2 separate regions of the Homo sapiens genome follow, and region 2 is linked to region 1. Evidence: fine-mapped expression QTL. A gene starts in region 1. The other region holds a variant in brackets. All regions are shown on one strand. Distances are from middle to middle. Region 1 holds the start of OPCML (opioid binding protein/cell adhesion molecule like). Region 2 overlaps OPCML (opioid binding protein/cell adhesion molecule like).

The links. PIP is the estimated chance that this variant, and not a neighbour inherited with it, causes the effect.
Region 2: its variant is fine-mapped to the expression of OPCML in cerebellum (GTEx, PIP above 0.99). The same link has a PIP of 0.9 or more in cerebellar hemisphere.

Annotation. Positions count from the first base shown.
Region 1 is chr11:133,530,181-133,535,557 of GRCh38, reverse strand. OPCML (opioid binding protein/cell adhesion molecule like) reads left to right here and starts at 3,057. Exons shown (of 8, transcript NM_001012393.5): 1 at 3,057-3,294. The coding sequence starts at 3,234.
Region 2 is chr11:132,895,712-132,901,088 of GRCh38, reverse strand. The region is part of intron 2 of OPCML (opioid binding protein/cell adhesion molecule like); the gene reads left to right. Among named protein-coding and RNA genes, the nearest start is that of OPCML-IT1, 470 kb to the left of the region's middle. The variant A/G (reference allele first, on the strand shown) is at 2,803.

The DNA of each region.
Region 1 (5,377 bases):
GTGAAAGAATGTAAACTCTGGAGTAAGAAAGACCTCAATTTCCTTGCCACTTATTAGTCTTAGAGGAGGGACTCGAGACTCTCTGTAACTTGTTCTATTTATTTATCTTTGAAATGGGCTAGCAATACAGAGAAAATTTATGAAGTTCCTAGGATTGTGATTGGCCCAAGACAGTTTAATGAAAGTTTGCTCCTGTCTGGCCACTAGCTACCGACTAGTAGTGTGTGCCCCTCTTTCCTGGAGTGGGGTTGGGGCTGCATGGAATGCACTTCCATGTCCTCAGGTGCTACTGCACAGGCAGCGCTGGGACTCGGTCCCCTCCTAGGCTGCCAGTGCTGCTCCTTCTCTCTCCTCCTGGTGGTTAAGAGCACCAGTGGTGAAGGCAGGCCTTGAACCGGGGCTCCACACCCGGGCAGCTCTGCAATGTTGGGGATGTTATTAAAGCTCTTTGAGCTCCAGTCTCTCCCTCTAGTCTGTGTGGGTGATAAATAAATAGGGATTTATAAGGGCAATACCTGAGTGATTGGCATGTGAATATTCAATAAAATGATGGTGCCCAATATGATAATTTCTTCTAGGGAGTCGCTTATTTGGAAACAGAAAAACCCAGGATTAAATTTTGGCTGTCACTAACTAGCTGTGTGACCTCGGATAAATTACCTAACCTTTCTAAGTCTCGGTTTCTTCATCTCTCAAAAAGGCATAATTACACCTTCATAGAGTAACGGCTAGGAATTGAATGTGATAATATTTTTAAAAAAAATCTAGCCTGCAGAGGGTGAATACATGATGTCTATTATCCGTAGAATGCCATCAGTCACTACGTCCTCCTAACTCTTCTGCGTTCCACATACAACCCCCTTCTTTTCCTCTTCTACTGCTACCACCAGTTCCAGGATCTATCAAACTTGGGCCATGCCTACTAACAAGTGTGCTTGCCACAATCCCTCCTGTACACTTCACCCAGATTAATTTCCATAAATTAACTCCCTCTCATTCACAGCGCTCCCCTGCTCAAAAAGAAATTAACTGTTTTTCCCAGCAGGGGGAAATTTCTAAATCACTGGTCTAGGACTCAAGGTCTTTCTCTCTTGGTCTCCCATCTCCTCCCCTAACTCCCCCCTGCAGGGTTTCTACCTGTGTCTGCTCTCTTCCCCTCCATGAGATGTCTATCTCATTTCTGTGGCCTATCTGGTCTCTCCCACAATTTCAAGCCAGTTGTATTCTCCAGCGTATTCAGCCACTGGTAATAATTCTGGATTTCTGCAGGATTCCAGCATTGCCTGAAGGATTCACATATCAATTTGCTTGTGAACGACATGTTTGCAGTGATGAGGTCTACAAAATTTGACTCTAACAGTGTGTACGTGTCCTATTATTTTTATGTACATTCGCAAAGTCACAATGCTAACTTTTGGCTGATCTCCTGACTTATATTGTATGCCCTTTATAGACGAGAACAAATCATATTCTTCATATTCTCATCCCTGAAAAAATGACTATGTTAAGTAGGTACTTCATAAGTGTCAGCGGATGATACAATCATCATCTGTTTTCTCTTTTACTGCTGAAGTTTTCTGACTTGTTCATAAGGAGGGGAGTAATCAATTGTTTTACTTCTTTAAAAGTAAACATGATTTATTTTATAGAAAGAGAGGCGCTCAGTCAGGCCCAAAGAACTTGTTGGCAATTGGCTGCTTTATAAAAACTGTGTGGATTTTGCAGGACAGACCTGGGTTTTTATCTTAACTCATTAGCTGTGTGGCAAGTCACTGAATCGCTGTCAACCTCAGTTGAAAATTCAGGGGTCATAATGCCTACAAGGAAGGACGCTGGTGAGGATTAACTAAAGTGATAGAGGTGAATACCTGCCCATAGTAGGTCACTTGGGAAAACTTTGGGAATTGCAGCAAAGGAGGAAGGGAGAAAGACCTCCTGTGGAGTGTCCCTCACAGACCTCAAGGTGTGGACACGTGGAGCTGGGAAGGAATCCAAGCCACTTGAGGTCTTCGGAGAGCACCTGGGACAGAAATCGTCTGCTGAGTCCCTTCTCTAATACTTGGTGCTATTTTGATCACAGACCCTCCAAGTTCAGGGTATAGTTCAGTGGCAGCACCACTCAGCCAGCAAGGTGTGCTGCTTACAAGCACGTGTTAGGGAGGGCAAGCAGGCCGTTTTAGAGCAGGGGAAAGTTCTGAGGTTTCTTACACCCAGAGATACTGCCATCCTGTGTAAACTGCCGGTGTAAACTGCCATTCCAGAGGAAGGGACAGACTGGACCCTGAAAAGGAGAAGCAGAAAAAAAAAAAACAGAAGGAAGCCACAGGTATCCTTCTGTGGCCTTCTCCTTGTGAAGATTTCCGATGACTTCAGCAAGTTTCCGCCTCCTTGAGATCTAATCTGAATCTGTCCCTGCCTATGCTGTAATCATAGCAATTGTTTGAGCTTCTATAGCATCTTGCCTTGGTAGAGTTTCAGAATGCTCTGATTGTGGGGAACTGGCCAATTCTCCCTGCATCATTGGTTTAAAACCGTAACATGCCCATCTCCTTACTGGGAAAACCAACTGCTTCCAAATGCTGTTAATGGCCGAATGGAGGGGTAGGGTGCAGATTTAAATGTCTGAGCTCTCCCCGTGGGTAGCAGTTCCTGCTCCATCCCTGCCTGGAGACTAGGAAGAAGGAAGAATGATAAGGAACTGGCATGGGCATTAGTCACATTTCTGCCAAGCAACCTTTCTTTCTTGGTGTGCCCTGAGCCCTGCTGGCAGTGCCAGGCCCTCTCCACTGCCCACCAAGGAGCTCGTGTGTGTTCACGTGTCCACGTGAGCCCCACATCAACATACTCACACAGATAGCAACACGCAGGGCTGTGCTCCGGTGAGGGGGTGAGTGAGGGGCCGGCTTCGACTCCCCTTGGAGTCAAGCCTTCCAAGCAGGAAAGTCTCCTTCCGTCGCTCAGGAGAGTGGAGCCAATGCGTGCCTTGGAGGACTGCTCTGAGCCCTGTGCAGATTGGTGCTGATGATTCTTACCAGTTGTGTGCAAGAAAAGAAATCAGAGACGCTGCCTGCCTGCTCCCATCTCTCGCGCGCTCTCTCTCTCTTCTGCTCTCTCCCTCCCTTTGCAAACATTGGATTTAAACCTGCTCAGAATTCAGCACAGAGGAAGGCAGCAGCGGTAGCAGCAGCAGAAGCAGTAGCAAGCCCGGCAGCTGAGAGCACCGCAGCGTCGAGATGTACCATCCTGCCTACTGGGTCGTCTTCTCGGCGACAACTGCCCTGCTCTTCATCCCAGGTACCGTACAGGGGAAGGGTGTTTTCTCTCCCTGGGGTGATTGTACGACGTGAGAGCAGGAGAGGCAGTGGGGAGATGGAGAGGCAAGGAGGAAGGGGTGAGGACAGGGAGTGTGAGATGCATGTGAGTGAAAGAGGTAGGCTTGCTGTGTGCACGCACACACACACTCACTCGCTCACACGCGCGCAGATGCTTTCAGCACGGGATTTGCTCTCTGTTCCGGGGGATCCAGTGAGCTGGGTTCGAGATCTGCACCATGCTGTGAGGCACTGCTGTTTCAGTGAAAGTCACCAACTGGCATTAACCAGCTGTGGTCCTGGGGGTAGGAGAAGAGGGGTTTGAACTCCCAGCCATAAATCCTTCTTGCTGCCTATGTTGGGACCTGCAGGGTGGAAGGGGCACCCTCTTATCTCTCTCAGTCGTGGTGGTCTCTCTCTGTTTCTGAATCAGTCCAGATCTCTGCGCCTCCCTGTCTCTCTCTCTGTTTCTTTTCTCTCTCTCTCTCTCTCTCTCTCTCTCCCTCTCCACCTCTCCCCACTCTCCTCCTCCCTCCCTTCCTTCGGAACTGCTCTCCCCTACCCTCTCCCCCTGGAGCTCCTTCCCTGCCCCATCCCTCCTTCTCAGCTCACTCATCTGCTCCTGCATTTCTTGTTGTAACACAGGCCCTCTACTGCCTGCCGTCCTTTCTTTATCCTTCCACCAAATGGGCAGATTATGCCCTTGAAATTCGGAATCCTCTCAGTATCTCCTTCCTGTTCCTTACGTCAGGAATATGAATTTCCCTTGGCAGAATTTGGGATGTCCCTGCTGAGGGAAGGTTGGAAATTTGGATTTGCCTGATTCTCCCCAGCCCCTTCCCCACCTTGTCTAATGATTTAAATGTGATCCCACCTCTCACAGCAGTTATTTGTTTGGGGAAAACAAATCTGCAGTGACACAGGTAAGATGCTGCAATCCTACCAAAATGAGCTTAGCAGAAGCGTTGCAAAATTGAAGGCATCTTAATAGATTTGATAATTGCACAGGAGTCCTTTGCAAGCAGACAACTGAATGCCTGCAGGCATCTTTCAAACAATGCCGAAGGGGCTAGGTTATGCTTGCCAAGGTTTTAGGCAGCAGCAAAAGTGTCGGTTTTCATACCAAACCGTCGCACAGTCAGGATCTCTTTTTTTCCCCCAAATTGAGATAAATGCATTGTGTTAAACATTAGCTTAAACCTAAATTTTCATACATATATACACAGACAGGAATGCTAAGATTTTAAAACCTTACCTGCCTTTTTATAGGTAAAACATACAGTTTTATGTTTCTATATTCAGTATTACTTGGTAGGGTTTTGTGGGAATATTTTCAGTGTTGTTTTTAATAATATAATTCCCTGAGTAGTCCTAAGATGCCAAAGTGAAATCAGAAAAATGGAAGTTTACTGGGGAGAAAGAAGAGAGGATCAACTAAAACAAGTAATCCAGCCTGTAATGTTTTGTAACACCTTGTGAAGATGGCACTTTTTAAAGCAGGGATGGGCTCTGCATAACCATGTTCCCAGCTGTTTGTTTTAGGCTGACCAAGAAGTTCAGAGTGGGGGTTGCTGTTGTTGTTATTCCAGATTCCAGCAGCATCCTAGGGGGTCCAGCCTGGGGGCTGTGCTCAGCAGGGAAGGCAGAGCCAACGGAACACTCAGTACCTGCCTGAGCCTGGTAGAGGGAGCTAGGTGGGTGCACTGGGTCCGTGGCAGGAGAAGACAAACTTTCCTGCGTAGGCAAGTCCCCAGCTGGATGGCAGCTCCGGGGGGCCTCCTCATACCCGCTTCCCCTCCTCTCACTGTGCTGGAGCAAAGATCAGGACCCCCATCCCAAGGGAATCCTGGCTGTATGGATGCGCCCCTTATGGCAGAAATCATAACATTACACTTTAGAAAGCAAGGCGGGGGGTGAGCCCCAGTCTGCAGAAGCTGCATTGCAGCGCGCCCTGAAGGAGCCAGGAGCCAGGGTGAGACCTCCTTCTAGGGGTCCCGTGGCACTGCACTGGTGGGGAGCAGGCAGAACTTGCTTGCAGGAGAAGTACCCGAAACTAAAGCCGGCTG
Region 2 (5,377 bases), 630 kb after region 1:
CCTGCCTCAGCTTCCCAAGTAGCTGGGGCTACAGGTGTGCACCACCTTGCCCAGCTAATTTTTGTATTTTTAGTAGAGATGGGGTTTCACTATATGTTGGCCAGGCTGGTCTCGAACTCCTGCCTGCCTTGGCATCCCAAAGTGCTGAGATTACAGGCATGAGTCACTGCACCCGGCCCCGGAGATAGACTTTAAATAATAACACAAACTGAAGTGAGATGGCAAGGGCGCTAGTGGATTGAATGGAGAGCCACCTAGAACTGCCTGTTGCCAATTTGAGAGGAAGATTTGGACTAGTTAAAAATGCCAGAGCAGGCTTCTCTGACTGTAGACATGAAGGAGCTGGAGTTAGTTTGGCTAGGGAGGGTTTCATAGAGAAGGAACAGAATGTGCAGAGCCCATAGGGCAGGAAGGAGAAAAGCAAGCCAATGGAGCTGGAGGTCACAGCGTGCGGAGACAGTGCCAAGTCTGTAAGGCACATTTAGGAGCTTCATTTCTATTAAAACAATAGAAGATATGAGTGAGGCTGGGCTGAGGGGAGAATGATGACATGAAAAATGTTTTGTTTGTTTGTTTAAAGATAATTTTGGCTGCAATGGGAAGAAATGCGTATCAGTGGGCCTGAGTGCACCTGGAGACCCTTTGGGATGCAAGGCGAGAGTTGAGATGAGAGATGATGGTGGTTTAGGCTACAGTGATGGGTGGAAATGGAGAAACACACACAGATTTGAAAGACCCTTAATCATTGAGACTTGGTGATAGACTGCATATCAGAGGAAGAAAAGAGTGATATCAAGGATGACACCCCATTTTTTGACTGGCCTAATTGAATGGCTGGTGGAACATTCATCGAAATAGAAAGTACAGAAATAAGACCCCATTATGAGCCTATAATAAGTCCATTATGAACTTGCTGTGGGCATGGCTACTTGGAATTGCTTTGCAGTTAAGAGCTGATAAAAAGAATGCAAGTTGTACAGGTCTGTATTACTCAGGGTTCTCTAGAGACATAAAAATCAATGGGAGGAGATTTATTAAGGGAATTGGCTCACCTGATTATGGAATCTGAGAAGTCCCGTGACAGCCGTCTACATATGGGGGACCCTGGAATGCCAGTAGTGTTGCTCAGTCCAAGTTCCAGGGCCTGAGATCCTGGGGTGGGAGTGGGGGTTGCTGGGCTAAGTCCTAGAATCCACAGGCGAGAGAGCCTGGAGTTCTGCTGACCAAGGGCAGGAGAAGAGTGTATCCGAGCTCCAGGAAAGAAACCTATTTGCCTTGCCTCTTTTTTGTTCTGTCTAGGTCCCAGCCTATGGGATGGTGCCCACATACAGTGAGGGCAGATCTTCCCCACCGAGTCCACTTAGACTCACATGCCAGTCTCCTCTGGAAATCCCCTACAGACACACCCCAAAATAATGCTTTATCAATTCTCTAGGTATTCCTTAATCCAGTCAAATTGACACCTAAAGTTAATCATCACAGGTCCACCTTTGTCAACTTGGCACCTGTTTGCATCCCATTAAACCATACTTAACCTCCAAATGAAGACAGTAACAAGGAAATAGTTCCACCTAACGTGGTGAAACTATCTGCATACAACTGAAAATGCACTAATCTCTTCCCTAGAAGAGAAGGTAAAGTGTTTGGATGATAACTGAAACACTATGATGTAAAATTAACAACACATATATACTGATATAAAGTCAAAAAATCTTATTATACATAATAAAGGGATAAGAGATGAGCAAAACCAAAGATATTTGCTTAACATATTTATAACATGTATATAATATGTACACCAAAACATATCCTTAACAAGATAGGAAGAAAATACTCATGACAATTACTGTCCTTGTTTCTGTAACTAGTCACATGGCCACAGCTGGTATTTATAACTGCCTTCCACTACCCATTCTGTATTATTTTACCTGCAGCAAGCACCTCAGCTGGTCATGGTTCATTACCTGGTGGGGTGACCTGAACCTTTATTCCTGAGGAATCTGGGTCATTAGTAGTCCTCCCTGGATTGGGTTGTGGTAGTTTCCCATTGACCTTGATCATGGGGCATGGTAATACTAAGAGACACCCTAAGGGATCTCCTGTATTCCAGGCATAGTCTTCCTTACATCCAGTGGAGTAGTAATCCAGTTTCCCCTTCCTGATCCGGATCAGTCACCCAGTCAGCACCATAACATAGCCAGTTGACTCAGAAGCATGAGGCCTCCAAAGTGGCTGCGGGGGTGGGGGGGGCAGTCTAAACTTCCAGTTCAATGGAATCATTGTTGTGTCTCCTGATGGAAACATTACTCTCTCTGGAACTAAGACCTCTAGGTCAGCAGAGCATAAAATCATGGGAAAAGGAAGCAAAACCTTTGCTAGTGGGTCACTAGGGGTATTGGTGAGTGGTGACACTCCCACTCTGTGATTCCTGACTCCATGTATCCTGACTATGGGAAAAACAGGATCATATATTGGATGCTGATTCAGAGCACATACAGCCTTCTGGAAAACCTTGCCCCAGTCCTGCAACGTTAGCTGGTGCTGTAACTGCAACTTCAAAAGGCCATTTTATTGTTCTGTCAAGCTTGTTGCTTCAGAATGGTGGGACGCATGGTAAGATTAGTGGATCCCATGAACTTGGGCCCAGTGCTGTACTTCTTTGGCTGTCAGGTGAGTTCCTTAGTAGATACACTGTGTGAAATACCATGAGCGTGGATAAGGCATTTTGTGAGTCCACAGATGGTAGTATTGGCAGAAGCATTGCATGGAGGGAAGGCAAACCCATGTCCAGAGGAAATGTCT[A/G]TTCCAGAAAGGACAAAATGCTGCCTCTTCCATGATGGAAGCCATCCAATGTAATCAACTTGCCACCACGTAGCTGGCTGATTGCCCTGGGGAATGATGTCATGTCAGGGTTTCAGCGTTGGTCTCTGCAACAGGCCAACTGAGCACTCAGTGGTGGTTGTAGCTAGCTTAGCCTTGGTGAGTAGAAGCCATGCTGCTGAACCCGTGCACAACCTCCATCCCTACCACCATAGCCACTTTGTTCCTGAGCCCACTGGGCAATGACAGGGATGACTGGGAAAAGAGATTGACTGGTATTCACAGAATGGGTCATCCTACCCTCCTGAATATTAACATACTCCTCTGTGGAGCTCATCTTTGGGTGAGCATTTACATGAGAAACAAATAACTTCACATCCTTTGCCGACTCAGAGAGATCTATCCACATATCTATTCTCTCAATGTTTTTGCCACCAATTTTCTAATCATGTTCCTTTCAAGTCCCTGACCATCCAGCCTGTGAATCAGTACCTAATCACACATCTGGCCATTTTTCCTCTAAGCAAAGTGCACAACCAGGTGCACTGCCCCAAATTCTGCCGCTTGAGATTTTCCTTTACCACTGTCATTAAAGGATCTTCCAGAAAGGGGCTGAGGTGCTGCAGCTGTCCACTTTTAGCTGGTGCCTCTGTATCATACAGAACCATTTGTCCACAAAGCCCGATTTTTCTCTTCCTCTGTCGGCTGATCATGAGGACTCCCCATAAGGCCATAGGTGCAGGTGGTGGGAGAGAAGGCAGTGTGATAGGAGTAGACACCAAGGACATTTGGGGCATTTCTTCATGTAACTTCTTTGTACCTCCAGGGCCTGTGCTGGTCCATTATTTGATGAGGGACTGCTGCTGTGCATGCCCTTCCTGGCTTGGTAGGTCAGATGACACCCAGTTCATGATGGGCAGCTCCGGTCACCTGGTAATTGGTGGCCCATGGTCAAGCGTTCAGTTTCTATTAAGGCCCAGTAGCTGGCCAAGAGCTCTCTCAAAAGAGTAGTTATCTACAGATGATGGCAGAGCCTTGCTCCAAAATCCTAAGAACTTCTGCTGTGATTCTTCTACAGCACCCTGCCAAAAGCTCCAAACAGCATCGCTATCTGCCACTGACATCTTGGATATCATTGGATCTGCTGGGTCATATGGCCCAAGAGGAAGAGCAGCTTGCATGGCAGCTGGGACTTGCTGTAGAGCCTTCTGTTCTGGACTCCACTCAAAACTAGCAATCTTTTGGGACCCTCAACAAATGGGCCAGAGTAAGACACCCAAGTGAGGAATGTGTTGCCTGCAAAATTCAAATAGGCCCACTAGGCATGGTATCTCTTTCTTGGTTGTAGGACGAGCCAGATACACAACATATCCTTCATCTTAGAAGGAATATCTTGACATGCCCCACACCATTGGACTCTTAGAAATTTCACCAAGGTAAAAGGCACTTGAATTTTAATTGGATTATCTCCCGTGCTCTGATATGCAAACGCCTTACCCATAAGTCCACAGTAGTTTCTACTTCTTGGTCATGAGGTCTGATCAGCATAAGGTTATCAATAGAACAGTATGAAATCTTATGGAAGGGAAAGGCAGTGAAGATTCCCGCAAACTGGATTGTGACATAAAGCTGGCGAGTTGATATATCTCTGATGTAAGACAGTGAGGGTGTATTGCTGGCCTTGCCAGCTGAAGGCAGAGTGCCTCAGGTGGGCCTTATGAACACAAATGGAGAAAAAGGTATTTGCCAGTTTAGTAGGTGCATACCAGGTACCATTTTGAAAACTGCATTCAACTTGTCTTTGACGGTTGAGTGCCGTCACTTGGTCCCTATCACCTTGGGATCCAATTACTCCCATTGCATTTAAGTTTTCCAACTGAATAACAGCAGCTCCCATTGTAAGGTCTGGTCTACAGAGAAGAGCAATCACAGAGCTCTTCAGGGGTGCTGGGGCTCCCCTCACAAATCCATTGTTCAAAGTATTGATGAAAAGTCTGTCTTCTGGACCCTCCTGGTGTGTCCGAGTAGGGTTTAAGTGACAAATCCACTGTAGCTTTCCAATCTCCCTAAGCCTTTGAATCCCTTCCTCTGTGTTAGCCCAAGGGAGATCAGGCATCTCCAGCTCACTCACAGTGGCTCATGTTTTTTGATCCATGTTTTACCACTCAATCAAACAAACTCACTCCCTGAGCTGCAAAGTTAAATTGAGGACCTCGGCTCTGAGGGTCCATATAAGTAAATTTGGCCTGATCCAACTTTATATTTCTTCCACCATATTCCCACACTCTCAGTATGCATTCCCACAAGCATTCCCCAGACTTCTGCTTGTATAAATTAGAAAACTGAAGTAGTTCTTTTGGAACATGGCACACCTCCTCCTGAATCACACTTTGAACCTCACCTCTAGGGGCCTGCTGGGACTCAAGTCTAGTTACAGGTCCAGAAGCAAAGAGGGGCAGGGGGGGTGGATTCTGAGGAGACTCAGCATTGTCTTGCTTGGCAACTGCCTCATGGAGGCTGTTACCATTTTCTTAGACAATGCAGGGTTAACTCCTTC